4 linked regions of the Homo sapiens genome follow. Each later gene encodes a partner of the first gene's protein in a complex. Each region holds a gene or a part of one and is shown in the gene's direction. Other genes may lie near its edges.

Region 1 (7,870 bases):
CTTACCCCACAATGGAAATCATCATGGCAGCCACCACCAGGTAGTTGGTCTGGTAATAGAGCAGGTTGCTCACTACGCGGTTGTTCCATTTGGAAATGTCCCTGAAGTCCGGCCGGGCAAAGCGATCGGAACCCGGGAAGAAATCGTCCCAGGCGCGGAGTGGGGCGATATTAACGTCCATGTTCTCAGCTTTGCGTTCTTCGCCTCCAGAATCTGGCGGCGGCGGCGGCGGCAACCGATCAGCTGAGCTGAGTTGGAGAGTTGACAGCGGCTCCGTCTCGGTCGGCTTTGCGGTTGGCAGACAGCAGAGCAAAGGAAATTGGGAGTGGGCGGGCGTGTTTGCTCCTCTTTACTTCTTCATTGGCTCTTGGTTGGGTACAGGAAAACAGGAACCTCCAGACAGAACAAGGGACTGAGTGCAGAATAGAGACGAAATGACAGAAAGCAACTAGCGGAAATCCCCTGTCTGAAGGGAGGTGGCAATGCCTTCTCTAGCAGCAGAGAAGCTGCCTCCTTCGAAATACCTTTTTTGAAGGTTTACCTAGGAGTGTGTTCTCTGACTTAGAGAAAAATTTTGGCAGCTGTGCAGATGCCAATCTAAGTGAAATGAAATGGAAGGCGACTACAGTGTTAATGGAGAATGAGCTGCTTTTGAAAACTAAGTCTTACTAACCTCTACACATCTGAATGCAATTCCCATGTTTTCTCTGTTTCACCATGAGTCACTATGTGTGAAATCAGATTGGCAAAACGGGAAAGAAGGTCATGTAGAACAGAAGGGCTGGTCTGTTTTTTTCACTTCTCTTCTTTGTTCTCCACCTCTGTTCTCTCTAGGCTAAATTGTTGGACTGCTATGCCATTCTGATAAAGTAGGCACTCTGGCCACTTCAGTCCTGAGCTGGGCATGTTGCTTACATTTTAAAGCAAACAGTTGTCTGCAGTGAACTAGTTGTTCTGCATCCAGCATTTTCTGGGCAGAAATATGCATTCCACTTCAAAAGTTTTCTTAGTTTTATTGCAATATTTGGTGACAGCTTTCACTGAGGGACCACAATATATTCATAGATAACGTGATGTTTTGTATCCCAGCCCAAAGACCTGGCAAAAGAAGTATTCGTTGTCAATTCTCTTCTAAGCTTCCAAGGGTCATCTTTTTTCAGTTAAGGGGCTGATTGGTACAATGCATGAGAAAAAAAGTAGTTTGTTTAATTGTATAATGTAATAGGTAGAATTCTAAGGTGAAGATTTCTAAGATAACAGAGTCTCTAAGCCCCTAAGTGGCTTAGACAAGGTGAATTCACTCTACTCAGATCACCAATTTTTGAAAACTTGGAAAGTAATGAAATATACTAATGCAAAGTCTAGAAAACATAATTTAATTTTCCTTATTAATTCAGAAGACAGTTAAGGAGCTTACAGCGACTCTAAGAAATTACTACTACTACTGTTGTTTAGGAAAATTTGGTGATTGCATGGAATTAGTGCTAAGATATATCTTATGTGCTGCTTTTTGAATAAAGTTTAAAATGTGAAAATATTCCTGAGTGCTCATGTTTTCTTGATTCTGGAAAAATGGGATGGTGTGAAGTCAGAGAAAGCAAAATTAGAGTCGCAGCTCCTTCCTCTCTGGCAGGTGACTTTGGAGAAACTACTTAATCTCTCCCAGCCTCGGTGTCTTCATGTGTAAAGTGGGGATAATGGAACATCTGCCATATAGACGAGGCTAAGTGAAGGAATGTATAGGAAATGCTTAGTGTATAATAAAGGTTCACAGTTATATGTTACTATTATTGTTATTAGCAATAGGATAGCCCACGATTCTTGTTTGCTATTAATAGTGCTTTAATCTGATTTGTTTTCTATGCTTTCATTATAAACATCTACTAACTTTTCTCTACCTTGCTCCAACTTTATTGTTGTGGATGTATCTGGGTAGGGGGAAAAGGTTGAGAATATTCAGTACAATGCCAGCAAGTATTTCGAGTTCTTTTGAGGCTCTGTGAAAGCACTGTGGGTTTTTTTTCTTTTCTTTTCTTTTTTTTTTTAAAGAGGAGAAAAATGTAATCCTGCTCTGCCTTCAAAACTTCTGCAATCCAGTGGAAACACTAGTTAAATATGAGACAGTAAGAGGAGTGCTAAATAGAGATGCACTGAGCCTCAGTGCTCAGTTACAGGAAGTCAGAGGGTGTGGAGGAATTCCCCAGGGCTTCAGAATGTCAAGAGGCAGCACTGTGGGCAAGCTGAGTAAATCATCTTGGTCAAGATGAGAGTGGGAACTCCAGTGGGGCCCCACACTGTTGGTGAGATTTATGAGTATTAGAAGCTGTAACTAAGAACTTTATCTTCCAACTGCTCAGAACTGCATGACCAAAAGCTGTCAAGAGTGTATTAGTAACAATATGATTACTCCTTGATCACAGGCAATTGATACCCAAGAAAGAATTAAACCTCTTTAGAGGTTTAAACATAAATAAATAAATTCTGAAAAGACAGAGAAAGCTGTTTATAGCATGATTCCCTTCTGTCTCCCTCCCAAAATGTTAACCCTGTCTCTCTCTTTGGGGTATGGGAGATTTTTTTTTTCTCTAAATATTTCTACCTTTGTTAAATTATTTTAAATAAAAATGAACATGTAATGAGTCATTACTTTTTTCCAGTAACTGTTTGAAATGCTATTAGTAGCAGCTCTTTGTTAGTGTTCATTCCGGGGAGGGAGGGGTCAGATTCACTGTAGAGGTCTTTCTGGAGCTTTAATTTATTATTATTTTTAGAGACAGGGTCTCACTATGTTGCCCAGGCTGGTTTTAAACTCCTGGGCTCAAACAGTCCTCCCACCTCAGCCTCCCAAGTAGCCGGGACTACAGGTGTGGGAAGCCGAGCCCTGCTTGATGGGGCTTTTATAATGGGACTGGTGTGTCTAGATAGGACCATTCAGACTATCTGTCTGTTTAAAAACCATAGCAGATAGTCTAATTGTTTATGATATGTTCCATTTGAAGTAAAATAAATCTGTTGAAGGTTTTGCTTGCATGTCTCTGTTGCTTTCATTCCTGGCAAGGGCAGATGGCTATTTCTAATCCGTCAATCAATCTAAGCCAGTGAGAGTGCCTGGTGTCGTTTATCAAAATACCACCATGGTGAGTCAGGCTGTTAGTCTCAAAGCAAGCAGATGCAGGGCCAGATACCTTTGCAGACTTCTTCATCGGCTAGCTGTACTCTATCCCTAGGCCTCAGTTTCCTCCCCTGTGAAATGGGTGAGACTGGACTAGGTGGCCTTTAAGGTGACTGCTGCTTTTCACTATCTGAGAGGGTTGCAATGCTCACTACCACTAATCAAAGGGTATCCAGTATTGTTGGGGGTTCAGGCTACAGGAGCCCATTTTGATAAGCACTGAGGTTAAATCCTCAGTGAAACCATCTGTGGAGTTGTCTGGGCAAGAAAAAGTAGTTTCATAGTTGACGCTGAGACATGTGATGCAGAAGGAGGCTGGTATCTCTTGATAGGGACTGTGAACTCTATTCCCACGCTCACTGCCTGGCATTGACTTTCAGCTCAGTGAATGCTATTGAACTGAACCTAATTGGGGGACCATAAAGGACAAGCTTTCCTTAAGGTTCACTGAAAACTAGGACAAGAGGAGGTTAAATATCACAGTGTAGTAACAGCAGCTACATTTACTGAGTACCCATCAGGCTTTATGTACTCCATTTCAGTGGCCCTCAAACTTTACCAGTGGAGAATCACCCCAGGCTTTGCAGAAGGCTGAAGGGTGGGGTGGCGGGGGGGCGGTGGGGAGCGTGGTGGGGGCGGTGAGGGGTGAAAATTTGTGTTAAAAAAAACTTCCCAAGTGATGTTGATCAGGAACTGTATTTTGAGAGCCACTCTGGATTTTACTTAATTATCAGTCTTACAAGGTGAATAGTGTTATGCCCACTTTATAAATGAAGAAATAGAAGTGTCTAAGGGTTTCGTAGCTCACAACTGAGAAGAATTTAAAATCAGTTACTTTTGATTCCAAATATCATTCTTGTCCCACTCCATAGAAGGAGATGTGTGTGTACGTGTATATACATACATTTTTGAACATGATCATTTCCCTCTATCCAGCCATCCAGATTCACAGTGTATATTTGTATTTCTGACTCTAGAAGAAAATAATTGAAACTTTTATCACAATTTATCTTTAGGTGATAGGATTATGGGTGTTCTCAGTTATTCTTTGATTTTTGTGATTGTTTTCCTTTATACTTTTTTCTTTGTATCTAAATATACACATTTATCTCAGGAAAAGTTTTAATCATTTTGTTTCCGCTGAACTTATCTAACAGAATGTGACATGAAAATATTAATGCTGATTTGTTCAAAGAAAATAATAATCTCCCACCCCACCAATGTAAACGGATTTAGATAAATTTATTATTCAAGTGAGTACTTATAAAGGCAAAGACTTTGGAACCATCCTGAAAAGCAGAAAGTGAAAATTTCCTTGATCTTTGCCCCCAGAGGAAAGCTCTGGCATACTGGGAGGGTTCTTCACGAATTTTTCATAGAATATACCAATATTTTGTATAATTACGTATTAACATATAGTTTGTGTAAACGCATAATGTATTGTCTACATTTTCACGCTGCAGAGCAACATTATGCACGGTATAAGATTCACCTAATTAAGCGTAGGTAATTAAGATTATAATTACAGGGCAAGACTTTAAAGCCCATGGGAGCCCAGCCGCAGTCAACCTCGCACCTCCCTGCCGGTTGTGTTTCTGGCCTCGCCCCTCCCCGCTTCGCCAGCCCCGCCCCTCCCCGCTTTGCCAGTCCCGCTCCTCCCCGCCCTGCCGCGCGTGGGCACCTGGGAAGAGGCGGAGAACAATATGGCGGATGGCGAGGAGCCGTAAGTACCGGGGCTCTGCAGACGCGCCGGGCTGGGCTGGGTTGTGAGAGAGCGCGGCGGTGGGCGGTTGCCGCCGCCACCCGGGGTCCCCACACCCCCCGCCCCGTCCCCTCGCCCCCCTCCCCTCGCGGCGCCCAGTGTGTAGCGCGATGCTGACCCTTCTTTTATTCTCTCTTTTAGGGAGAAGAAAAGAAGGAGAATAGAGGAGCTGCTGGCTGAGAAGTTAGTGCTGCCGGGAGGCCGGGGCCCTCTCCGGGGACCCCCGCCTCCCCCCACCCCAGGCCTAGGGGACCAGCCGCAGCGGGCCCGGGGGGCTGGGAGGGGGACACCCGGAGCGCAGGCCGCGCTGCCTCATCCCCTGATCCCCGCCCCGCAGCCCCGGGGGCCTGGCGGGCCGCTCCCGGTATCTGCCCGGTGCGGGCGTCGGGGCCAGGCTGTACTGCCCCAGCTCCTGCAGGGGCCCTCCGGGGTGCTTGACGTAAAGGTCTTGAGGAAGGACCCTTGTGCACTCCTCTTCCTCCATCCCAAATTGTCAGAGCAGTGACCCTGTGAAAAGGCAATCTACCTTAAACACACAGGAAAAGGACACAAGACCGTTTTGTGGCCTTTTGCAAACACTGAGACAGTAGTACTAATTGCAAACTTTTAATGATAACTCTACATGTCAGGTATTGTACTAAGCACTCCAGTCATTTTGGCAGAATAATTGGCTCTTAAAAGATCTGGAAAGAGGTTGTTGACTTCAAACAGCCTATTTATCCCTTTTACTACACACCCTATTTCTTATCAGATGCTTAATTCTATGCTGGTGAGACAGATTTAATCGAAGTGTTTTCTAACCTGGCCAGCGCCACATAATTTACTCCCCTCCCTGCCTGGGCAGGGAAAAAATACTCTTGCATTGGTTATGGTGAGTTTGTAAATTTCCGTGCCGATTCCCAGTAGCAGTGCTTTGATCTTTATGTGTGTCCCTCAGTTGAATTTCAGCTGCAAGAGGACCGGGATGACAAACTTAATTTCACATTCTTTCCTGCCTTTTATTTCCCTCCCACTTTTACATGAAATCACAATTAAACATTGCTTACCATATCCCACGTACTGTACTGAGTCTTCTGTGTGATTATCTATATCCTCATGGCTGAAAGAAGTAGCTATGAACGGCCTGCAGATGAGGTTTATGTCTATTAAGTAATCTGCTCAAGGTCACAGTGCTGTTAATTGTGGAACCCAACACAACTCTGACATCAAAACGTATGGTTTTTATTGCTAGGCAATACTTCTTGGTCCCTTTTGTAAAAATTGGATATTACTAATATATTTGACGGTAGAAACTGTGGAGTTATAGGAAATTAGAAAATTAAAAATAATCACAACCAAACGTGAATCTTAACTAAGTATAAAATAGATGAATTTTGTAGAGGAGTCCCACCTTATTCTGTTGTATGTTCTAAAAGGTTTGTAGATGTCTATCTGTGGCGTAATTGTAATCTGAAACTTTGTGTTTAGTGGCAAGAAAAGCCGTCCCACAGCATTAAGAGATTCTTTAAAAAATTAAGACCTCTGCCAGGTTCGGTGGCTCATGCCTGTAATCCCAGCACTTTGGGAGGCCGAGGTGGACGGATTACTTGAGCTCAGGAGTTTCAGACCAGCCTGTGCAACATGGCGAAACCCGTCTCTACTAAAAATACAAAAATTGGCTGGGTATGGTGGCATGTACCTGTAGGCACAGCTACTTGGGAGGCTGAGGCAGGAGAATCACTTGAGCCCAGGAGGGCAAGGCTGCAGTGAGCTGCAGTCACACCACTGCACTCCAGCCTGGGCAACACAGTGAGACTCTGTCACAAAAAAAGAAAAAGAAAAAGAAAAAATAACCTTATTTCTGAGAAAAGTGTGTGAAAATTCCTCTCATCAAAGTGATTTTTAGATTACACCTTTGGAAAGGACACATAAATATTAAATTTGCATCAGACATATAAGCATCAGAATTCTGAAAGTGTGACTTTTTTTCTCTGTTGTATCTCATATTTCCTAATGCAAGTGTGATGAAACAACAGATTGAGGAAGCTTGCAGTGTTTTTTTTGTAAATACCAAATGTAGAGAAGTCAATTTCTCACATAATAGACCAATATCCTAAGTTGAACCTTGGATTGCTTTAGGAAACCAAAAACATGTAGACTGATTTATTTCATCCATTGGGTGAAATAAAAATAGAAACGTGCAGTTCTTAACTTTAAATGAATTGTATAATAGGCAAGAAAAAATTTCAAAGCATAAACATAATCACATTGAATATTTTCCTTTTTATTTGAGCAGGTCTGGTGTGGTTACCTTTTCATTTGGGGATACCATAATAGTTGTAGGTGTGGTTTTTTTCATACTGATCTTTGCAGCTGAATTTACTGTGTTCTGTGCAGAATGGCTGTTGATGGTGGGTGTGGGGACACTGGAGACTGGGAAGGTCGCTGGAACCATGTAAAGAAGTTCCTCGAGCGATCTGGACCCTTCACACACCCTGATTTCGAACCGAGCACTGAAGTGAGAAACGTTTATTTTTAAATAACTGCTCTAATAGTTTTATGTTTCAAAACTAATAGAATGCTTCTTTTTTAATTTGCTCTTACAATGAAAATACTAATAAAATTGTTTTGTGAAACTAAATTTTTCTTAAAATATGAGATTGAATATTCACAACTGATTTTGTTTGAATATTTGAGTCTTAACATTTCTCATGTAATATAAGTTGAAAATTTTTGTGAGAAAAATCTAACTTCATGACCTCATGTAAAAATTTAAAATGCTTTCTGAAACATACTCCCCTTTTGTAGTGCTACTGTGAGAAATTAATTTTGATAGGAGTATAGGTGTGCTTACTTAAATTTTGAAATTTAGTTGGAATGAACATCTTAGCTTTGAGTATAATTAATTGCATGTTAAGAATTATGTAAGTACTAAATAATAGAGGCGTAGAATTTTG
Region 2 (6,972 bases), on another chromosome or scaffold:
TTCGCCTGCGCCGAGTGTGGCAAGGCCTTCCGCCAGCGGCCTACGCTCACGCAGCATCTCCGCGTACACACGGGCGAGAAACCCTTTGCCTGCCCCGAGTGTGGCCAGCGCTTCAGCCAGCGCCTCAAGCTCACGCGTCATCAGAGGACACACACCGGCGAAAAGCCCTACCACTGCGGTGAGTGCGGCCTGGGCTTCACGCAGGTCTCGCGGCTCACCGAGCACCAGCGCATCCACACGGGCGAACGGCCCTTCGCCTGCCCCGAGTGCGGCCAGAGCTTTCGGCAGCACGCCAACCTCACCCAGCACCGGCGCATCCACACGGGTGAACGGCCCTACGCATGCCCTGAGTGTGGCAAGGCCTTCCGCCAGCGGCCCACGCTCACGCAGCATCTGCGCACCCACCGACGAGAGAAGCCCTTCGCCTGCCAGGACTGTGGCCGCCGCTTCCACCAGAGCACCAAGCTCATTCAGCACCAGCGCGTCCACAGCGCCGAGTAGCTCCAGCCGGGACGCACTGTGTCCGCCATGGTCAGAACACCTACCTCCCCTGGTTATTGTGAGGCTGGCGATTACATAAGTATAAGCAGGTCCGCCCAGGGCTTGGCTACTGTAGGTGTCCAATAAACAGTAGATGGAAACTGGGTCTCCACCCACTCAGTGCCTCCCTACCTGTGCGTCCTTCACTCCCCACCCTCCAGCCCCCCGAGTGCTGGGCTGGTGTGCTCCCTCTGTAACCACGTGGTTCCTGTGAGGGTTCACCTCCACAACACCCCTCTTCACCCTGAGAGAGGTGGCTCCTAGCATCACCTACCCCGCGTGTGGGATGGCCGCTATACCCAGCTTCTAGTTTACAGAGGGAATGGACCAGCAGCAGGTGGGGCAGAACTGCCCTGGGCAGTCCAGCTTCAGCTCTCCCTGGGCAATGGACCTCGGTTTCTCAAACCCAGAGAGGAAGAAATGTTCTCTGTGAGCATCCACCAAGAGTACATATGTGCATAGCATGGTGCCATGCCTGATCTGATTGAGTCCCATCAAGAGACAGAGCACAGCTAACTAGGTGTTAGGTGATTGATGGGAGAGTGAGAAGGTTAAGTCAATCTGTCTTAGAAATGGGAAAGTTCCTGCAGGAAGCAGCTAGACCCTTAGGACTAGAGGAACAAAGGGAAGCATTGCAACTTAGAAGCTCCAATGAGTTTCCCATGGAGCTGGAACTCAGGCCCCTGAGAAGAGGGCACTGCTGAGCCAGTCCTGGGGTCTCTTAGCTGGCAGGGAAGCCCTGTGGGCCTGAGGGGGTACTGCTCAGCTGGTCTGGAGGTCTCTGTTCTCAAGAGGGTGCCCCATAGGCCTAGGAGACTCCTGAGGGGGCACTGGTGTGGGTGTCTCCAAGGGGCCCAGTGAGCCTGGTTCTGGGAGGTATGTAAAAACTGTTGCTCCTGGAAGGACCTGCTGTTGCCAAGGGGAAGAGGTGGTGCTGGCCTAGTCTCTTCTCCCTTTCCAACCCCTGTTCCAGCCTGCCCTTAACAGATCTGCAAGTGAAGAGAGGTGTTTGTAGTCTCTGCCCTGCACAGTGATGCCTAGGTGGGTAGGTCTGGAGCCCAGCCTTGTCTGGTGATGAAATCCCATGGGATTTTCCCTTGACACTGAGACCAGGGCCTCCAAGGGCTGGGAGAACACTCAATCCTCAGGGAGGTTACCAGCCTCCTGAGCACCAGTCCTCCTTGCTCCAAGTCAGCGTTAATGATTCATTCCCATGATACTACCTCTCCCACCCCAGCTCAGCTGTACAGCTACCCTTACCCTAACAGCACCCTACTCCCTAAAGTGGTCCTGAGCGGCCAAAGCTTTCTACCTTTATCTACCTATCAGTAGGAGTACCCGCTGAAGAGTTGTACTCATGGGGACATTCAGCATCTCACCCTTAGTACTAGAGGAACAAAGGGAAGCAGTGGGGTCACAGCACTTCTTACAGCTGGGAGCCAAGGATCCCACTTGGATCTGCCAACCCCCAGGTTTGTGGGTGGTACTGTGCCTAAACTTGATGCCTGCAACCTGCATGCTCCCCTCCACACCCTGTCACGGCTGTCCCCTGGGCCATGGGCCAAGCCAAACCCCAGGAAAGGACCCAGACAGGCCAGAATCTCCCTAGCCAACCAAGATTATGCGATCCAGCAGGAGCAAACTGACACCTGGTGATCCAGATTCTGCCTCAGGATGTCTTTGTAAAACTCCTTTACACCTAGGAAACCATTTCCTAGTTTTAAAACTAGAAGATTTCACCTGGAAATTCAGATTTTTCAAGACTTTCCTGTTCTCGTGTTCACAAGCAGCAGGTGATGAGGGTGTAGGACCCTGCAGATGGAACCCCAGCCAGTCTGAGAAGCAAAGGCTGCAGGCCCTGGGCCAGTTTCCCTGCCCTGTGGTGATCATTCCCATCGCTAGAGCTGAAGGCTTCTCCCACCCTGGCCCCATGCACATTGGAAGGTTTCAGTCAGGAGTAGATTCAGCAGCAAACCAGTGGAAACGCAGCTTAGGTGAAAGTGGACAGATGCTGAGAGCATAAGTTCAGCATACTGCAGGCTTCAGGGCAGCGTCTCCAGGACCCAGTGCCATTGCCTGTTTTGCCCTAGCCATCTTCCCCTTCCATCCCATTGTCCAGGTCCTTCACACAGCCCCTCTCCCCCAACCCTCCAGTGGGTGACTTGGGTGCAGGTAACACAGGCTGAAAGGCAGTTTCAAAGAAGGGGCTTGGCCTTGGCCAGAAGCCACTCCTGGGGGAGCATCTGCAGAATCAGAGGAGTGGCGCCTGGGCCCCTCCGCAGGCAAGTGCCACACCATGCGCTCACGGGGCTGGCAGTTTCCGTGGTGACGGCCGGAAGTCGCTGACCGGCAGAGTTCCGTTTCCTCCCGCCCTCCGAGGCACGCTGAGCTGTGATTGGATGGGAAGCTGACCCCCGCCTCCATCCCCTTTTCCAGATAGTGGGGGAAGCGCAGAGGCTGCAGTGCGTGTCCGCTGGAACTTGAGGCCCACGCCAATAGCGGCCCGATTCCGCCCCCACGTCGCGTTCCCCAAGTGTCCACCCCGACAGGTCTTCCCCTACACCACTGTAACCCTCCACAGTGCTTACCACTCTCTGGCACAATACATGTTTTGTTAGTTTACCTCAATCAGAATCTCCAGGAACGGGGATCTTTGGGTTTGCGATGGGACAGGGAAGGTACTCGACCTCGCACCCTCTGGGTAACGCATCTAGTCTCACTCAGGGTCTTGCCGCGATCACCCTGCCTTGTCTGTGACCCATAGGGTCAAAGGCAGGCCGGGCGGGTGGCGGCAGCAGCGGAGGTGACCACCCGCGCCGCGCTCTGCACATATATACAACTTAAGATGAAGTGACCGCGAGCAAAAGCGGCCCACGTCTGCCCCACTCAAAGATGGCGACTAACTCCGCTTCCTGCCCGGCCCCGCGAAAGTCGCCGGAAGTGACCTGCAAGGCCGCCGAAGCGTCATCTCCATGAACGGAAATGCCCGAGTCCAGCCGAAGGAGGCCGAACCCCAAACTCCATCGCTGAGCAACGCGGGTTTGCGGCGGCTGCGCAGGCGCACAACGCAGGCCGGGCGGGAAGAGCCAAAGCGGGCAGGCGGCGGAAATATCCGAAGCGGCGGGGCGCCCGAGGCCGTTGCCGACCTCCGCGCTAAAGCCGCTGCTGCCGCGGAAGACGATCCTCCAGTACCCGCCCGCCGTCACCGCAGCTGCCGTGTCCTCCTCCCACCCCTAGCCGCACCCCCTCGCGGAGGGATCAGCTGAGCGGCCAAACGGCACGGTCGGGGGAGCCCCGAGTCCGCAGCTGCAGCGGGGCCTGAGACCAGAGTTGGCGAGGGCAAGGAAGGAGCGGCCCCGGGCAGTGGGGGCGGGGCCGGGCGGGCCCGAGAACAGCCGAATTTGGCCGAGCGCTGCCGAGCGAGTCCGAGGCGCTGGGCCAGGCCGGAGCCGGACTACGGGAGCCGAGGCGGGCCGCGCGGTGGGCGCGGAGAGGAGCGGAGCGGCGCGGCAGGCCGGGCGGGTGGCGGCAGCAGCGGAGGAGGCCGCAGCTGCGGGTCCGAGGAGCGGAGGCGACGCGGGCGGCGGCGGGGGGCCGGGTGGCCGGGGTCCCGGGCCCCGCGGCGGCGGCAGCGGCGGCGGCGGCGGCAGGATGATCAAGCTGTTCTCGCTGAAGCAGCAGAAGAAGGAGGAGGAGTCGGCGGGCGGCACCAAGGGCAGCAGCAAGAAGGCGTCGGCGGCGCAGCTGCGGATCCAGAAGGGTAGGGGGTCAGGGGATGGGGTTGGAGCCGGAGGTCGGAGGTCAGGGCCTGAGGCAGGGTGATGTGGGAGTCAGGAAGGGGTAATGCGGTTGCTGAGGGTCAGAGGTGAAGGGCCCCGAGCGTGGGGGGGGTCGGAGGTCAAGTCTTGAGGGTTGGGATCATGCAGTCACGGGGAGGGGGTCAGAGATAGGGGCCCGGTATGTGGTGGTTTAGGATATTAGGAAGGCCTGGTGTCTGCTACTAGGGACTCGGAATCTCAGAGTCAGGCAGTGGAGTGGAGGAACTGACGACTCGAGAGTCTGGGGGTTAGACGGGAACTTGGGTTTGGGGTGACAGGCGGAGAAGAGAGGGATAGTAGAGGCCAGGGGTTGGGGATATGAGTGGAAGAGGATTTAGTTTATTATGCTGGGGTCTCTGGGAATCTCTGAGTCAAACGGGTGAAGTAGGTTGGAGGACCAGGGACTCATGGGCCTGCCTGAGTCACAGCAATTTGGGGTTTGGGGTGACAGGTGGAGGAGGGAAGGTTAATGAGTACCAGGGATTGGAGACAGGGGTGAGGGGAAATTTAGGCTATTGTGCTGTGAACCTCAGAGTCAGAGGGGGTGGGGTAGGGTGGCGGGGGTTGGGGACTTGAGAGTGTGGGGGTCACATGGAAAGCTGGGTCTGAGAGACAGAGAAGAGGAAGGACAGTGAGGACTGAGGGTTGGTGGGGGTGGGCAGGATCTTTGAGTTTGGGTGAACAGGTAGATACTGTAGAGTGGAGGTCATGGATGGGGAGCCTGGGGTTTAGGGCGGTCAGAGGATGTTTGGGAGTGGGGGCATTTGGGAGCTGTGGATACAGAAAAGTTGGGGGTCACCCTGGGCCAGGAGTTGGGACACGCATACACAGCTGAACATGCATGTTTGGGGTATGCTGTGTATCCACAAGAGCCAAGCTGGGGAGCAGGGAGAGGGCTGGAGGTGTGGAGCACAGCCCAGGAGAGGCGCCTGGGGGTCCAGGAGGAGACGATGGGGGCTCTGCTAACAAACACCCGCCCTAAGTGTCCTGCTGGCTCCCTCTCTCTCTCTCTTCCCCTCCCTCTTTCTGTTCCCGACTCTCTGCTACCCAAACCCAGACATAAACGAGCTGAACCTGCCCAAGACGTGTGATATCAGCTTCTCAGATCCAGACGACCTCCTCAACTTCAAGCTGGTCATCTGTCCTGATGAGGTGAGGGTGCATATGGCTGAATTCCCAGGAGCAAACCAAGGGTGTCCCCACTGAGAGGAGGGAGACATGTTCTGCCCATCGGGCCCCACAGGATGGAACCCTAAAATTTTCTTCTCCCCCTTTTCCTCCCAGGGCTTCTACAAGAGTGGGAAGTTTGTGTTCAGTTTTAAGGTGAGTCCCAGGCGGGCAGGGATGGCTCCCTGGACAGAGGAGGCAGCAGCTGAGGCCCTTCCAGGCACCTACCCATCTCTCTTTTCTTTTCCTGGAGCCAGGTGGGCCAGGGTTACCCGCATGATCCCCCCAAGGTGAAGTGTGAGACAATGGTCTATCACCCCAACATTGACCTCGAGGGCAACGTCTGCCTCAACATCCTCAGGTGAGGACACTGGCCCTCTAATGCCCTCCTCAGCGCTGCCTGCCAGGCCTCCCTCATGGTCTTGTGGGCACTACATCAGACTCTGTCCCTTCCCACCCCTTTGTTGTCTGTGGTTTCTTGATTTCCCAGTCATCTTCCTCATGGCCTGACCTTGGTTTTCTCCTTGGCCTGTCCTGCTCCACACCCTCCCTCCCAGCCTCTCACATGCTCACTCTCCTATGCCCTGGATCTGACCTGCCCAACACCAGAGGGGCCTGTGGCAGTCTCCCACTCACCAAGCCCTGACCCTGATGCTCTCTGTCCACAGAGAGGACTGGAAGCCAGTCCTTACGATAAACTCCATAATTTATGGCCTGCAGTATCTCTTCTTGGTGAGTAGGAATAGGTGGTTGGGTCTGGGGAGATTGGCCTTCTGTCCCTCTGGCCTGTTGACCCCCCCTACCTGTACTGGCCACAGGAGCCCAACCCCGAGGACCCACTGAACAAGGAGGCCGCAGAGGTCCTGCAGAACAACCGGCGGCTGTTTGAGCAGAACGTGCAGCGCTCCATGCGGGGTGGCTACATCGGCTCCACCTACTTTGAGCGCTGCCTGAAATAGGGTTGGCGCATACCCACCCCCGCCACGGCCACAAGCCCTGGCATCCCCTGCAAATATTTATTGGGGGCCATGGGTAGGGGTTTGGGGGGCGGCCGGTGGGGGAATCCCCTGCCTTGGCCTTGCCTCCCCTTCCTGCCACGTGCCCCTAGTTATTTTTTTTTTTTTAACACCATGTGATTAAGGTCGGCGCTGCCTCCCCCGACCCACTCAGCGATGGGAAATGAATTGGCTTGTCTAGCCCCCCTGCTGGGTGCTTGTTCAGCCCCCACTCTGGGCTGTGGAGTGGGTGGGCAACGGGCCTGGGTAGCTGGGCCCAGGCAACCCACCCCTCCACCTCTGGAGGTCCCACCAGGCTATTAAAGGGGAATGTTACTGCATGGCCTCTGCTTCTTACTTCTATGGGGTGGGAGGGGCAGCTGAGGTCCATTAGGGCCTGCAAAGCTGGGGTGGTGGAAGGTGTGGTCACAGGTGGCATTGGAGCACCCTAC
Region 3 (7,017 bases), on another chromosome or scaffold:
ATTATAAACCAATCAGAAGTTTGTATTTGATTACAATTTGAGAATTCAAAGAACATATCTGAAGAAATAGCACTGAAAATAAAGATGGGCGAATTCTTAATACTGTGTAAGTAAATGTTTCATGTTCCTTTGTTAGATCCCAAGCAGTATTGAAGATATATTTAATGATGATCGCTGCATAAATATCACCAAACAGGTAACAACAACAAAAGTAAAAACATTGCTGCTAAAACTTTGGGTCAAAGTAAAACGCCACTTAATGTTAATTTTTTCTTATTCTTTTAGACTCCATCATTTTGGATTTTAGCTCGTGCCTTAAAGGAATTTGTGGCCAAAGAGGGTCAAGGAAATTTACCTGTTCGAGGCACAATTCCTGATATGATTGCAGATTCAGGCAAATATATAAAACTGCAAAACGTGTATGTCACTGTTTTCAAACTATGTAATAGAAAAAGTCTGATTATATTAGAGATAAACATTTTATCATCCTGTCAGAAATCAAATGAAAGTTTATTACAACCTCATTGCTTATAAATAAACTAGGCCAGCTGCAGTGGCTCATGCCTGTAATCCCAACACTTTGGGAGGCCAAGGTGGGAGAATTGCTTGAGTCCAGGAGTTTGAGACCATCGTGGGCAACATAGTGAGACTTCCATCTCTACAAATTGAAAAATTAGGTGGGCATGGTAGTGTTCGCCTTTAATCTCAACTACTCAGGAGGCTGAGGCAGAAGGATCTCTTGAGCTCAGGAGTTTGAGGCTGCAGTGAGCCATGATCATGCCACTTCACTTCAGCCTGGGTGACAGAGCAAGACCCTGTTTCAAATAAATAAGTAAAAATAAGCTGAAGAACTTAGACCAGGCTGGGCGCAGTGGCTCACACCTGTAATCCCAGCGCTTTGGGAGGCCGAGGCAGGCGGATCACGAGGTCAGGAGATTGAGACCATCCTGACTAACACGGTGAAACCCTGTCTCTACTAAAAATACAAAAAAATTAGCCGGGCGTGGTGGCAGGCGCCTGTAGTCCCAGCTACCCGGGAGGCTGAGGCAGGAGAATAGCGTGAACCCGGGAGGCGGAGCTTGCAGTGAGCGGAGATCGCACCACTGCACTCCAGCCTGGGCGACAGAGTGAGACTCTGTCTCAAAAAAAAAAAAAAAGAACTTAGGCCGGGCGTGGTGGCTCACGCCTGTAATCCCACCACTTCGGGAGGCCGAGACGGGTGGATCACAAGGTCAGAAGATCAAGACCATCCTGGCCAACATGGTGAAACCCTGTCTCTACTAAAAAAATACAAAAAATTAGCCAGGTGTGGTGGTGCGCACCTGTAGTCCCAGCTATTCGGGAGGCTGAGGCAGGGGAATCGCTTGAACCCAGGAGACGGAGGTTGCAGTGAGCCAAGATCGTGCCACTGCACTCCAGCCTGGAGACAGAGCAAGAGTCCGTCTCAAAAAAAAAAAAAAAAAAAAAAAGAACTTAGGGGGCAATTCTTGTTAAGCTCAAAGCAAAATTGAATGGGAAATACAGAATTACCACATACGCCTAGGAGGCAGAGTTTTTTTTCATACTTCATGATAAACTTAATATTTGATCCCTTAACTCTGTGCTATGAACTATATGTATTAAGTAATTTAACACACACACAAGGTTCACAACGACCTTATGAGAGAGAGAGAGACTGTTACCGGCCCCATTTTACACATGAAGAAACTAAGGTATTGAAAAGGTTACTTATACAAGGTCAGATAGCTGGTAAATGGCAGAACCAAGATTTGAACCCCAGGAAACCCAGTACCAGAGCCTGTATGCTTAGCTATGGCCCTATACTACCTTGTATTTGTAACTTAAAACCATGAAGGTTTGATGAATTTTTTATCTTAATGTTTCATAAGTTATAGTCTATGACTATAGCTAGACATCTTGCTATCCAGGTATCACTAGCCTGAACCCAGATAGACTATCACAGGGATGGGTCTCAATGAATATGACCCTCGTATAGTTAGGGCATGGTGCAAAGAATCCAGGTCTGCTGGCTCGGTTTCTTTGGGGTCCAAGTAATGTCACACAGAGATGATCTCTCTTCCCCAGACAGATTTCACTCTTTATCATGTCACCATTGAACGAATCTTGGTTTGTTGTCCTAGCCTAAGAGTTCAACTACTTAAAACTTGGGGAAGGTCAATTGAGGATAGAAAGAAGTATGACCTTACATGGGAGGTAGTCAGCCTGAACACTGATGATTTTTAGAGGGTGAAAGGTAAATAGACGTAAAGAAAACTTTTATGGCCGGATGCAGTGGCTCACACCTGTATTCCCAGCACTTTGGGAGGCCAAAGCGGGTGGTGAAATGTGCCACAAGGGATGTTCACAGTTGTTTTAAATGGTTGAAATTTTACGTTTTCCATGGTCTGTCTCAGTGGTATAGATACAGATAATAATTGGGTAAGGGTTTTTTTTTCCTCTCATAATAAATACAGAGTATTTTAAAACAATCAGAGGTAGAGCATGTTTATCTATGGCAATGCTAAAAAGGTATGAAGGTCAGTTAATTGAAAATTGTCATTAATACAGTATTTTCAGTTTCTAAATCACTTGAACCCAGGAGTTCAAGACCAGCCTGGGCAACATGGTGAAACTCCGTCTCTACAAAAAAGACAAAAATTAGTCGGGCATGGTAGCGTGTGCCTGAATTCCCAGCTACTTGGGAAGCTGAGGTGGGAGGATCAGTTGAGCGTGGGAAGTTGAGGCTGCAGTGAGCCAGGACTGCGCCACTGTACTCCAGCCTGGGTGGCAGAGCGAGATCCTGTCTCAAAAAACAAAGAAGTTTTACATTGGAGATGAACAGTTTTAATGTATTTAACTTTCCTTGGACTTGACTTCCAGGAGATAAGTCATGTTCTTCAGTAATGTATTTTTTCAGGTCCTCTGTCACAGAAGCCGAAATCATAGATCCCTCTAGGGGAGCAGTTTTTAAGTTGGGTGCTGTTAGAGGGACCCTGGGTTTTAGTGGGCACTGAGAGTCCGTCACTAACACTGGAAAGATTCCCAGCTACTCATGGTGCTGTTGATAGCATTTCCCTGGCATTTTCACATTTCATACATTGTCAGACCTGTGTTTTTTCATGAAAAGGAAAGAAAATTTTTGTTCATGGTAACAATTTAAATTTTGCTAATTTAAAAATTTGTTAGTAATTGCTTTTTATTCTTTTTTAGTTACCGTGAAAAAGCAAAGAAAGATGCTGCCGCTGTGGGTAATCATGTTGCCAAATTGCTGCAGTCCATTGGCCAGGTAAGCTACTGGGCACACTGTGCCCATACAGGCCTCAGCACGTAACTCCAGCCAGAAAGGGTTTAGAGACAGAGGGTGTGGCACTGCCTCTGTGCTTCTTTAGAGGGAGCTGTCATTTCCCTGCCTAATGGGATAGCTTGTGATAAGGAAACAAGATATTTTTAAAGTGCTCTCCCAGCTCTTGGAGAAAGCCTTCCCATCTCACAGTGATTGGCTTTGTGCCGCACCCTTTGTTAATCTTCTCTTTTAAACTGGAACAGAATCTGTATTTATCTCTTTACAGGCACCAGAGTCCATTTCAGAGAAAGAATTAAAATTACTCTGTAAGTCCCCTTGAATTAATTTCCTTATTTTGCTTGATAGAAATGTGCCACAGGGAATGTTCCCAGGTATTTTGAATGGTTGAAATTTTAAGTTTTCCATGGCCTCAGTGATATAGATATAGATAATTATTGGGTAAGGTTTTTTTTTTCCTCTCATAATACAATACATGGCGAGTATTTTAAGACTGAATCAGAGGTAGAACATGTTTATCTGTGGCAATGCTAAAAAGGCTTGACGGTCAGTTAATTGAAAATTGCCATTAATACAGGATTTTCAGTTTTTAAATTTTAAGTAATTTAGGAAGTTTTTTTGTCTGAAGACTTTGGGTGTGAAGTCTTGAGTCACATGTACATTGACAATATTGGTTTAAATACTCATTTTGATCTGTGTTAAATGACTGTAATGGAGTTAAGAATTTTGCCATCTAGTTTCGGAGTGGTTAGGTTCGTAGGAGTCTTCTCAGTAACTCCTCAGTAGGCCAAAAGCATTTTCTTTTATTTAAGAGTCAGTTTCAAAATACCCAATCTGTTGTGCATGCCATCTGAAGATTTCTCCCTGTAGCTACTGCTCCTACGTCCTGTGGAAGTTTATATTTTGCATGCTCCCCATCCTTAAAATAGATTTATCCAAGCTTTCCATTTTATGACTTCTCCACAATGTCTGTTTAGGCTCGGTTTTAATGTTTTCTGCCACTACTAATCTTGCACCTTGTTTGTTCTATTAGACTAATCTTGAATTAGCGTTTGTTGTATTAGATTATATAATACTAGATCACAAGTTTGATGCTGGGTATTTGAACATTTATTATTCTGTTCTACTTTGGGGCGTTTTTGAAAATTTCAATAATACAAAGCTTAAAGTCATTACATATATCAAGAGTACAATTCATAAACCTCTCTCCTTTAGGACTACTTATCCATAATAATGATGAAAACTATTATTTTTAGAGCCATATCAGGCATTGTGCTAGAGATGCACTTTATACAGATGTCACATTTAATCTGTAGAACAATTCTCAAAGGTAAACAGTATCATCCCCATTTTACACTTGAAAACTGAGGTTCAGAGAGGCCATCACCTTACTTGCTTCTGAACTGGTTGTAGTGCCAGGGATATAAATTTAAGGTGATTCATGTTCTAGTGCTTTCTCTGCTATTAGAACCAAGGAGAAAACATTTCTTCACATTCTCATGTCTGAGAAGGGTATACACATAATTCTCTGTTCTTAAAGTCACCTGTGATTCATAATATTCACCAGTCACAGTCATTACTTCCAGAATATCTTTCCTCTGTTCAGGCAGCAATTCTGCATTTCTTCGAGTGGTAAGATGTCGATCCTTAGCTGAAGAATATGGTTTGGATACAATTAACAAGGATGAAATTAGTAAGTATAATAGCCTTCTGATTCTGGGTTAATTTTAATTAATTTAAAAGATATAAATATTTTGTGTATAATAGTGTTGAGTATATGGTGATGATATTAAAGATAACGTAAACATATTCTAATTTTATTCTAAGCTTATCTAGGTAATTATAATTTATATATTATATGAAACTTAATGTATGCATAAAGTCATATTTAGGTCACTGAGTCCATTGTGTGATATGTATGAGTTAAAGTCAGTATGTTACTACTTCAGTAGAGATTGTGTGACTCCAGTTAATAGTCCTGAAACTCAAGTATATAGTAAATTCAGCCCTTCATTGTTTGTTACATTGCAAATTAACCAAATTAAACTGAAATTTTTTTTCCTTTCAGTTTCTAGCATGGACAATCCAGATAATGAAATAGTGTTGTACTTAATGTTACGGGCTGTTGATAGATTTCATAAACAACAGGGTAGATATCCAGGTAAGAATAGCAATTGAATTACCAGATATAATAAGATCTTCAATAAAACATTTAAATTGAAAGTGTTCTCAGGGTATTTATAATAGTGTTGCTTGAATTTCACATTGTAAACAGATTACACCCCAAACGTTCCCCAGTGAAGAACCACCTTTTGTTTTTTAAGTTTAACTATTTGCAAAATAGTGTTCGATTCTAAACTATTACAGGGGGATGTTGGTTGAATATGTATAGAAGAAAACTTTTTTCTGTCATTTTCCATAGTTTGTTACTAAGACTCACACTGAGTTTAATTTAGTGGAATAGGAAAGCCACAAGAAATATGCTGGCCAGGCATAGTACGGTGGCTCACGTCTGTAATGCCAGCACTTTGGGAGACTGATTCAGGCAGATTGCTTGAGCCCAGGAGTTGGAGACCAGCGTGGGCAACATGGTGGAACCCCATCTCTACTGAAGATACAAAAAATTAGCCAGACATGGTGGTGTGCACTTGTAGACTCAGCTACTCGGGAGGATCACCTGAGCCTGGGAAGTTGGGGCTACAGTGAGTTGTGATTGTGCCACTAAACTCCAGCCTGGGTGACTGTGGTGAGACTGTCTCAAAAAAAAAAAAAAGTATGCTACTAATTTCTGAACTCAATAACTCTGAAGATGTAGGAATTTCTTTGTTTAGTTATCTACTTTTTATCTTCAGCAAATGTAGTCATTGGAGAATTGGCATAATCTCAAAGATCTGAGGTTGCTCAGAATATTTTTCTTTGGGATGATAATTTTAATTGTGCAGGATTATTGCATAGCAACACATTCTAGGGGTATCATAAAACCTGCTGCTCCATCTGATACAGTGTGTCTCCAGAGTTTATAGTCTTTTTTTTTTTTCTTTTGAGACGGAGTCTCGCTCTGTCGCCCAGGCTGGAGTGCAGTGGCGTGATCTCAGCTCACTGCAACCTCCGCCTCCTGGGTTTAAGCAGTTTTCCTGCCTCAGCCTCCCGAGTAGCTGGGACTATAGGCGCCCGCCACCTCGCCCAGCTAATTTTTGTATTTTTAGTAGAAACAGGGTTTCTCCGTGTTGGCCAGGCTGGTCTCGAACTCCTGACCTCAAGTGATCCTCCTGTGTTGGCCTCCCAAAGTGCAGGGATTACACGCATGAGCCACTGCGCTGCCCAGAGTTTATAGTCCTAACAAGCAAGCTTACTAGAAGAAAAAAAAAGAATAAACACCAAATATGTATTGCTTTATTTGTATTATTTGATTAGTATTTATTTCAGTTATCTGTTGCATAACAAACCACTTCAAAACTTAGTGGTTTAAAACAATAAATAGTGTCGTGATTTTGTGGGTTGCCTGGTCTCAGGCAGTTCTCCTTGGGGAGGCATGCAGTTGCTTGAGCCTGGGGGTGGAGTCATTCTGAAGGCTTGACTGACTGAGTTAGACATGCAAGAAGACATTTTTACTCATGTAACTAGCACCTTAGTCAGAACAGTGGGAATAGCTGGCGGCTGGTCAGGTATCTCTTCACGTGGCTAGCTTGGACTTCCTTTTGGCATGTCAGTTGGCT
Region 4 (7,017 bases), on another chromosome or scaffold:
AAATTGCCCATATTTAAATTGTGTAATTGATCAGTCTGAAACCATGACCACACTCGAGATAAAAACATTTCCTGCCCGGCATGGTGGCTCACGTCTGTAGTCCCAGCACTTTGGGAGGCTGAGGCAGGTGGATTGCTTCCGCTCAGGAATTCAAGACCAGCCCGGGTAACATGGTGAAACCCTGTCTCTACAAAAAAAATTAAAATTAGCTGGACATGATGGTGCCTGCCTGTAGTCCTAGCTGCTTTAGGAGGTGGAGGGTGCTGAGGTGGGAGGATCTCTTGAACCTGGGAGTTTGAGCCTGCACTGAGCTCAAGTCACGCCACTGCACTCCAGCCTGGGCTACAGAGCAAGACCTGTCTCAAAAAACAAACAAAAAACATTTTTGTCATCCACAAGAGGGAAACTAGTGTGTCTGTGGTGACAGCTTCTAGCAGCTGAGTGGCTTTGGGCAGCCTACCTTCTGGGCCTCTGTTGTCCTGGGGTCCACATGTTAAAATGGAATGGGAGTGAGAGAAGTCCATTCCAACTTTGCAATTCTGAGAGCTTATGACCGTGAAAGTGCAGAGCTGTCTTTGAAACCTTTAGACCAGTGCTTCTTAAGGGGTTTAGGGTATGTGTATGTCCGTGTCCTCTAGTGGAAAAGACTGTGCAGTTCAGAAGATCGTATTCTATGTATTGTTTTCGTTTTGAAAAAATTCTTTAAATTTTTTTATCTTTTGAGATGCGGTTTCACTCTTGTTGCCCAGGCTGGAGTGCAATGGCACAATCACTGCAACCTCCACCTCCCGGGTTCAACCTATTCTTCTGCCTCAGCCTCCTGAGTAGCTGGGATTTACAGGCACCCGCCACCATGCCGAGCTAATTTTTTTTGGTATTTTTAGTGGAGATGGGGTTTTGCCATGTTGGGCAGGCTGGTCTAGAACTCCTGACCTCAGGTGACCCACCTGCCTCGGCCTACCGAAGTGCTGGGATTATAGGCATGAGCCACCATGCCTGGCCTGTACTGTTTTCATGGTACAAACAATAGAAAATAAAATCTGACAGCATTTAGGGGATATGCAGAAGATGGTGTGAGAAACTGTGTAAGAGACCTGGGTGAAAAATGGTTTCAAATGCCAATGAGGAACGGAGTATTCTTATTTGACTTTCAGGATCTTAGCCTCAACCTAAAATTTCTGTGCTTAGGTCAAGCTTTTCACATGGAATTTTTAGATCATTTTCTGTTGAAACGATCAGAGTGGTATTGAAATAAAATGATACGAAAGCAACAAAGGAAATTATGGAAATATTGAACTGGTGACAATTTATTTTGTTTTATTTTATTTTATTTTTTTGAGTCTCACTCTGTTGCCAGGCTGGAGTGCAGTGGTGCAATCTTAGCTCACTGCAACCTCTGCCTCCCGGCTTCAAGTGATTCTCCTGCCTCAGCCTCCCAAGTAGCTGGGACTACAGGTGTGGGCCACCACGCCCGGCTAATTTTTTTGTATTTTAGTAGAGACGGGGTTTCACCATGTTGGCCAGGGTGGTCTCGGTCTCCTGGCCTCATAATCCACCTGTCTCGTTCCCCTAAAGTGTTGGGATTACAGGCATGAGCCACGGCACCTGGCCCTGGTGACAAATATTTGTCCTCAGTCAAAAGAAGTTCCAGTGACCCTCTCTGACCATGGCAAGGAGGACGATTAATGTCAGTTTATGTTAGAAACAGAAGGCAGAGTCTAGCGGATAGTTACTTTGTTACAATTAGTGGGATCATAATGTAAGCTGTGGACTTTGAGTTATAATGTGTTAATGTGGGTTCATTAATTGTAACAAATGTACCCTCTGGTGGGAGATGTTGGTAATAGGGGAAGGATGTGCATGTGTTGGGGCAGGGGGCGTATGGGAAATCTCTGTACCTTCCTGTTAATTTTACTGTATACTTAAAACTGCCATTAAAAAATAAAATCTTAAACAAATTGTGGCATTTCTTCAACCGTCTCCCAGATAGCAAGGGGCATCACCTGTGTTTGGTCTTTGTTGTCCCTACTAGTGAGCTTGCAGCAGGGGAACCTGCAACACAGATGGGGTGGAAGCCACCAATGAACATAATCTACTTTGGGACATTAATTTTAATTTAGTCTTGATGTTGAAATTGCCAAAAAATATAAATAAAACACAAATGTAAGTAAATGCAACACAGCATGAATAAATGAGAAGATGCTTATTAAGGCTCTATCCACACCTTTATTAAAAGAGGAAGGAGAGCAAAGAGTGGTGCTCCTCTTCCACCAGAGGCTGTGCTGCTTCAGTTGGTGATGGGCCAGAACCTGGGACCGTACCATGTGTGTGCATGATCCCCTGCAGCAGGGAAGGGCCAACTTACCAGTGGGCAGTAATGGACTCATGTGGAACCCATTGGTGAGGGCATGCTGGTTGAGAAACTGTGGAGGCCACCCTAGACCTTGTGTTCCACGGGAGCTTTGTCACAACCACATCCCAGGACCTGGCACCCAGTGAGTGTGAAATGCATGACTCTTTTTAATTTTAAATTTTTTTTTTTTTTTTTTTTTTTTTTTGAGACAGGGTCTTGCCGTGTCACACAGGCTGGAGTGCAGTGGCACAATCACGGCTCACGGTATCCCCAATCTCCCAGGCTCAAGGGATCCTCCTACCTCAGCTTCCCGAGTAGCTGAGACTACAGGCACACACCACCACTCCTGGCTAATTTTTTTATATTTTTTGTAGAGACAGGGTTTTGCCATGTTGCCCAGGCTGGTCTTGAGCTCTTAGGCTCAAGCAATCCTCCTACCTTGGCCTCCCAAAGTGCTGGGATTATAGTTGTGAGCCACCGTGCCCAGCCATGACTCTCTTTTTTAAAAAATGTTAATTCATAATTTTAAAAGTTAGGCTTATAGAGGATGGCATAGAGCTTCTCAAATGTATTATGAAGGAATCCAATCTTATTAATGTGTACAAATTTTTTCCATAACTAAATTGTGGGAAAAAATCAAAATACAAAAGCACTTATACATTTTTCTCAGTGTCTAATTAGTCTCTGGAGACCTGGTCCTTAACCCTGCTTTCATTGCTGTCTTTCAGGGTAAAGGCAGCAGTAATGCTAACGCTAGCAAGTAAACTGAAGCGTGACGATGGTCTCAAAGGGTCCCGGACGGCAGCCACAGCGTCCGACTCGACTCGGAGGGTTTCTGTGAGAGACAAATTGCTTGTTAAAGGTAATGATCATTCGTGTGAACTGTTTTTATATCCTATAACAAAAGGAAGTTTGACTGGAGAGTCTTTGGGGATATAAAGCAACCTACTGCTGAATAGAAATACCTGTTTAAAAGATTTTAAAATATAATTGCTTATCTCTTATAGTGAAGGACATTGTACCACGCAGGTGATATGAGCACACTGTTGCAAGGAGATGGTATTAGAAACTGCAGTGTGTCTTATACACTTGGGATGTTCTTTGTCACGTCTGCCAAAATGCTAGCAGAAAGAATAAGGTGCTGAGAGTCAGCAAAGCCTAAGACTGGTTTCAGAGCTGCCATTATCTTCCTTTCTTTCTGATTCTCAGCACCATAGTTTCTGCTCTGTAAAGGGGAAGGAGTCAAATTTTGTAATCTCTTAGGATCTTTTCCTGTTTTATTCAGGTCAAAGCCTACGGCGAATCTTGTGAAAAATTAGTTCTCTTCACGGAATTAATAACATATAGTGTTCTAGAGTTTTCGTGACTTCTGCTATCCATGTTGGTGAGGAGAAACTTTATCCTTGGAGAAGGGTTGGTAAAATGTATGAGAGTATGCGTGCATGCAGATATGCATTCATTTGTATGTTTGAGCATAAATTTTGCATTTATTCATTTAGCAAACTCTTAAAATTTTCAAGTGCTTTGAAGTCGGTTTCTTGGGGGTCATAAGACCTATAAAAGATGAAGAAACAGTTGCAACCTTTAAGGAGATTATAATTTGCTTATTTATAATAAAGTTAACTTTGTATTTTATTTATTTATTTTTTTGAGACAGAGTCTCACTCTCACCCAGGCTGGAGTGCGGTGGCACAATCTTGGCTCACTGCAACCTCCACCTCCTGGGTTCCAGCAATTCTCCTGCCTCAGCCTCCTGAGTAGCGGAGATTACGGGCACCCGCCACCACGCCCAGCTCATTTTTTTTTTTTTTGAGATGGAATTTCGCTCTTGTTGTCCAGGCTAGAGTGCAGTGGTGTGATCTTGGCTCATCACAACCTCCGCCTCCCAGGTTCAAGCAATTCTCCTGCCTCAGCCTCTCGAGTACCAAGCAATTTTCCTGCCTCAGACTCTCGAGTAGCTGGGATTACAGGCATGCGCTACTACACCTGGCTAATTTTATATTCTTAGTAGAGATGGAGTTTCTCCATGTTGATCAGGCTGGTCTTGAACTCCCCACCTCAGGTGATTTGCTCGCTTTGGCCTCCCAAAGTGCTGGGATTACAGGCATGAGCCACTACACCTGGCCAAATTTTTGTGGTTTTTTTTTTTTTGTTTTTTTTTTTTTTTTGAGATGGAGTCTCGCTCTGTCACCCAGGCTGGAGTGCAGTGGTGCAATCTTGGCTAACTGCAACCTCTGCCCCCAGGGTTCAAGTGATTCTCCCGCCTCAGCCTCCATAGTAGCTGGGATTACAGGCGCCTGCCACCACGCCCAGCTAATTTTTTGTATTTTTAGTAGAGATGGGGTTTCGCCACGTTGGCCAGGCTGGTCTCAAACTCCTGACCTCAGGTGATCCGCCCGCCTCGGCCTCCCAAAGTGCTAGGATTACAAGCATGAGCCACCGTGCCCAGCCATTTTTGTATTCTTAATAGAGACGAGGTTTCACCATGTTAGCCAGGCTAGTCTTGAACTCCTGACCTCAGATAATCCACCCGCCTCGGCCTCCCAAAGTGCTAGGATTGCAAGTGTGAGCCACTGTGCCCGGCCATAAATGGAGACAGAGTTTCACCATGTTAGCCAGGCTAGTCTTGAACTCCTGACCTCAGGTGAGCCACCCGCCTCTGCCTCCCAAAGTGCTGGGATTACAGACGTGAGCCACTGTGCCTGGCCTTACTTTATCACAGGTGTTTACATTTCTTTAAAATTTTTTTTTTTTTTTGAGACAGACTCTTACTCTATCACCAGCCTGGAGTGCAGTGGCGTAATCATGGCTCACTGCAGCTTCAGCCTTCTGGGCTCAGGCGATCCTGTCACCTCAGCCTCCTGAGTAGTTGGGACTACAAGCGTGCACCACCATGCTTAGCTAGTCTTTTTATTTTTTATTTTTTTGTAGAGATGGGGTTTCATTATGTTGCCCAGGCTGGTCTTGAACTCCTGGGCTCAAGTGATCCACGCACCTCGGCCTTCCCAAAGTGTTGGGATTACAGGTGTGAGCCACTGTACCCGTCAAGTGTTTACATTTCTTACATGTAGAGCAGCTAGAAAGCAAAGGGTTGATTAGTGTATTCGAACTCCCTGTTTTCATGTTGTATTAGGTTGACAACATGGAGATTGCAGGCATTTACGTGTCCTGAAGAATCTAACAGCAGAAGAGCTGGTGTATGTAAATGTGCTGTGCTTGGCCTTCCCAGACACAAATCACTGTTAAACTGGGGAAGGAATGGGAACTGTGAGGGCACTGGGTTTGTGGGGACTTAACAGTGTCCTCTTTTTCTTTTTTAAGACAGAATGCAGTGGCATGATCTCGGCCCACTGCAACCTTCACCTCCTGGGTTCAAGCGATTCTCATGCCTCAGTCTCCTGAGTAGCTGGAATTACAGGCACACACTACCACGCCCAGCCAATTTTTGTATTTTTAGTAGAGACGGGGTTTCAACATGTTGGCCAGGCTGGTCTCAAACTCCTGACCTCAAGTGATTGCCTGCCTTGACCTCCCAAAGTGCTGGACTAACAGGCATGAGCCACTGTGCCTGGCCTGTACTCTTTTTCTTACTCTCCTTCTGCCCCTGAGTTTGGACTTAGTTTTGGATTATCCAGCCTGATGATTGGTTGAAAGTGGAGTGAGAATGGTATTTCACATTTTGGCCTTACCTACTAAGCCTGGGAGAATAGTAGATTGTATTCAGCGTCTGTTGTGCTGGAGGCTTTACCCTAAGAGGCCCAGAGGGCGGGGCAAGAGCTGGAGCACCTTACTTGGGTGTGCCTGATAGGACTTGAGTGTCTTCTCAGATTCCGGGCTCCATCTGCAGCACAAGCCAGGAAAATGGTGTGTTGTTGCTGTACTTGGAGTAGACAGTGAGTGCTTCAGTGCCTGAGGAGTTGCAGCAAGGAGGGCCTGGATGTCAGCTGAGGAGGAGTGGGTAGAAGCTGACAAACAGACTGTCCCATCTTCTTTACCCAATCATTGTCATGGTTAATAGTAGCTAATAGGAGCTTTTGTATACTGAGCACTTAGGGCCAGGCCCTCTGTTGGGCACCTTCTTAGTTCATTTGTGCTGCTGTAACAAAATGCCACAGATTGGGTAATTTATAAACAATAGAGTTTTGGAGGCTGGGAAGTCCAGGATCCTAGTAGGATTGGTATCTGGTACAGGTAGTTCTCTGCTTCAAAGATAGCACCTTGTTGCCGTGTCTTCACATGGCAGAAGAGATGGAAGGGCAAAAAGGGCCTAAGCTAGTTTCCTCCTGCTCTTTTATAAGGCCCTGATCCATTTATGCGGCAGAGCCCTGATGACAATCACTTCCCTAGAGGCCCCACCTCTTAATACTACCACAGTGGGGATTAAGCTTCAGCATGAATTTTGGCCCCATTCGAGCCATAGTAGGCACTTAATGGGGTAATTCTTGTTTGACTTTTCAAAGCCTTGCCAGATTGATCCTTCATTTTACCCATAAACTGCTGAGACTCAGGTTAAGAAACTTGCCCAGTTTGCGGGTTTATTGCAGCAAGACAGCCAGACCCACATACTGGGGTAGGACAGGCTCTGTGGGGGCAGATGCGACAAGCAGAAACCAAAGTAGCAGAATAGAAGTGCAAGTCCACAGAAAAGAGAGTTCAAGGAGGCT

Evidence for each region.
Region 2: the proteins of UBA3 (region 1) and UBE2M are in contact, whole or in part, in a crystal structure (PDB 2NVU), measured with the Homo sapiens proteins. Residues at the interface, in NP_003959.3 of Homo sapiens: His53 (codon at 7,405), Pro54 (codon at 7,408), Asp55 (codon at 7,411), Glu61 (codon at 7,429), Ser62, Phe65, Cys70, Gln149, Asn152, Asp153, Thr154, Arg157, Gln158, Phe159, His160, Ile170, Arg173, Trp174, Ser181, Leu182, Leu183, Asn184, Pro192, Ile195, Val196, Pro197, Leu214, Met217, Arg254, Met255; in NP_003960.1 of Homo sapiens: Lys3 (codon at 4,198), Leu4 (codon at 4,201), Phe5 (codon at 4,204), Ser6 (codon at 4,207), Leu7 (codon at 4,210), Lys8 (codon at 4,213), Gln9 (codon at 4,216), Gln10 (codon at 4,219), Lys11 (codon at 4,222), Lys12 (codon at 4,225), Glu15 (codon at 4,234), Lys21 (codon at 4,252), Gly22 (codon at 4,255), Ser23 (codon at 4,258), Ser24 (codon at 4,261), Lys25 (codon at 4,264), Lys26 (codon at 4,267), Ala27 (codon at 4,270), Gln31 (codon at 4,282), Leu32 (codon at 4,285), Gln35 (codon at 4,294), Lys36 (codon at 4,297), Ile38 (codon at 5,418), Asn39 (codon at 5,421), Glu40 (codon at 5,424), Phe51 (codon at 5,457), Ser52 (codon at 5,460), Asp53 (codon at 5,463), Pro54 (codon at 5,466), Asp55 (codon at 5,469).
Region 3: the proteins of UBA3 (region 1) and NAE1 are in contact, whole or in part, in a crystal structure (PDB 3DBR), measured with the Homo sapiens proteins. Residues at the interface, in NP_003959.3 of Homo sapiens: Trp34 (codon at 7,348), Glu35 (codon at 7,351), Gly36 (codon at 7,354), Arg37 (codon at 7,357), Trp38 (codon at 7,360), Asn39 (codon at 7,363), His40 (codon at 7,366), Lys43 (codon at 7,375), Phe44 (codon at 7,378), Glu46 (codon at 7,384), Arg47 (codon at 7,387), Ser48 (codon at 7,390), Gly49 (codon at 7,393), Pro50 (codon at 7,396), Phe51 (codon at 7,399), Thr52 (codon at 7,402), Phe56 (codon at 7,414), Glu83, Lys86, Asn87, Leu90, Ser91, Val106, Ser107, Leu109, Asn110, Arg111, Phe113, Leu114, Arg116; in NP_003896.1 of Homo sapiens: Glu10, Gln11, Lys12, Tyr13, Asp14, Arg15, Gln16, Leu17, Arg18, Leu19, Trp20, Asp22, Glu44, Lys47, Asn48, Leu51, Pro52, Gly67, Glu68, Ala70, Gly71, Asn72, Asn73, Phe74, Phe75, Gln77, Arg78, Ile81, Phe92, Glu95.
Region 4: the proteins of UBA3 (region 1) and UBE2F are in contact, whole or in part, in a crystal structure (PDB 3FN1), measured with the Homo sapiens proteins. Residues at the interface, in NP_003959.3 of Homo sapiens: Ala401, Thr403, Thr405, Leu406, Glu407, Gly408, Asn410, Arg411, Thr412, Ser417, Val418, Thr419, Ser420, Ile421, Arg424, Thr425, Gln442, Glu443, Ala445, Ala447, Asp448, Val449, Thr451, Pro452, Gln453, Thr454, Leu456; in NP_001265234.1 of Homo sapiens: Thr27, Arg28, Arg29, Val30, Asp34, Lys35, Val38, Lys39, Val41, Ala42, Glu45, Val54, His55, Phe56, Pro57, Asp58, Pro59, Asn60, Leu62.

What each region holds. Positions count from the first base shown.
Region 1 is NC_000003.12:69,077,359-69,085,228, reverse strand, and holds the start of UBA3 (NEDD8-activating enzyme E1 catalytic subunit), read left to right. Parts: upstream 1-4,863; 5' UTR 4,864-4,875; coding exon 4,876-4,895; intron 4,896-5,075; coding exon 5,076-5,117; intron 5,118-7,310; coding exon 7,311-7,431; intron 7,432-7,870. Other genes in the region: ARL6IP5 (PRA1 family protein 3), read right to left, coding at 6-181. UniProt on the Homo sapiens protein: Catalytic subunit of the dimeric UBA3-NAE1 E1 enzyme. E1 activates NEDD8 by first adenylating its C-terminal glycine residue with ATP, thereafter linking this residue to the side chain of the catalytic cysteine, yielding a NEDD8-UBA3 thioester and free AMP.
Region 2 is NC_000019.10:58,555,601-58,562,572, reverse strand, and holds UBE2M (NEDD8-conjugating enzyme Ubc12), read left to right. Parts: upstream 1-3,961; 5' UTR 3,962-4,191; coding exon 4,192-4,300; intron 4,301-5,415; coding exon 5,416-5,510; intron 5,511-5,642; coding exon 5,643-5,681; intron 5,682-5,782; coding exon 5,783-5,886; intron 5,887-6,193; coding exon 6,194-6,257; intron 6,258-6,343; coding exon 6,344-6,484; 3' UTR 6,485-6,861; downstream 6,862-6,972. Other genes in the region: MZF1 (myeloid zinc finger 1), read left to right, coding at 1-501.
Region 3 is NC_000016.10:66,806,966-66,813,982, reverse strand, and holds part of NAE1 (NEDD8-activating enzyme E1 regulatory subunit), read left to right. Parts: intron 1-136; coding exon 137-196; intron 197-285; coding exon 286-419; intron 420-3,210; coding exon 3,211-3,286; intron 3,287-3,569; coding exon 3,570-3,609; intron 3,610-4,907; coding exon 4,908-4,994; intron 4,995-5,369; coding exon 5,370-5,462; intron 5,463-7,017. UniProt on the Homo sapiens protein: Regulatory subunit of the dimeric UBA3-NAE1 E1 enzyme. E1 activates NEDD8 by first adenylating its C-terminal glycine residue with ATP, thereafter linking this residue to the side chain of the catalytic cysteine, yielding a NEDD8-UBA3 thioester and free AMP.
Region 4 is NC_000002.12:237,970,011-237,977,027, forward strand, and holds part of UBE2F (NEDD8-conjugating enzyme UBE2F), read left to right. Parts: intron 1-3,081; 5' UTR 3,082-3,097; coding exon 3,098-3,215; intron 3,216-3,638; exon of another isoform or gene 3,639-3,737; intron 3,738-7,017. UniProt on the Homo sapiens protein: Accepts the ubiquitin-like protein NEDD8 from the UBA3-NAE1 E1 complex and catalyzes its covalent attachment to other proteins. Together with the E3 ubiquitin ligase RNF7/RBX2, specifically neddylates cullin-5 (CUL5).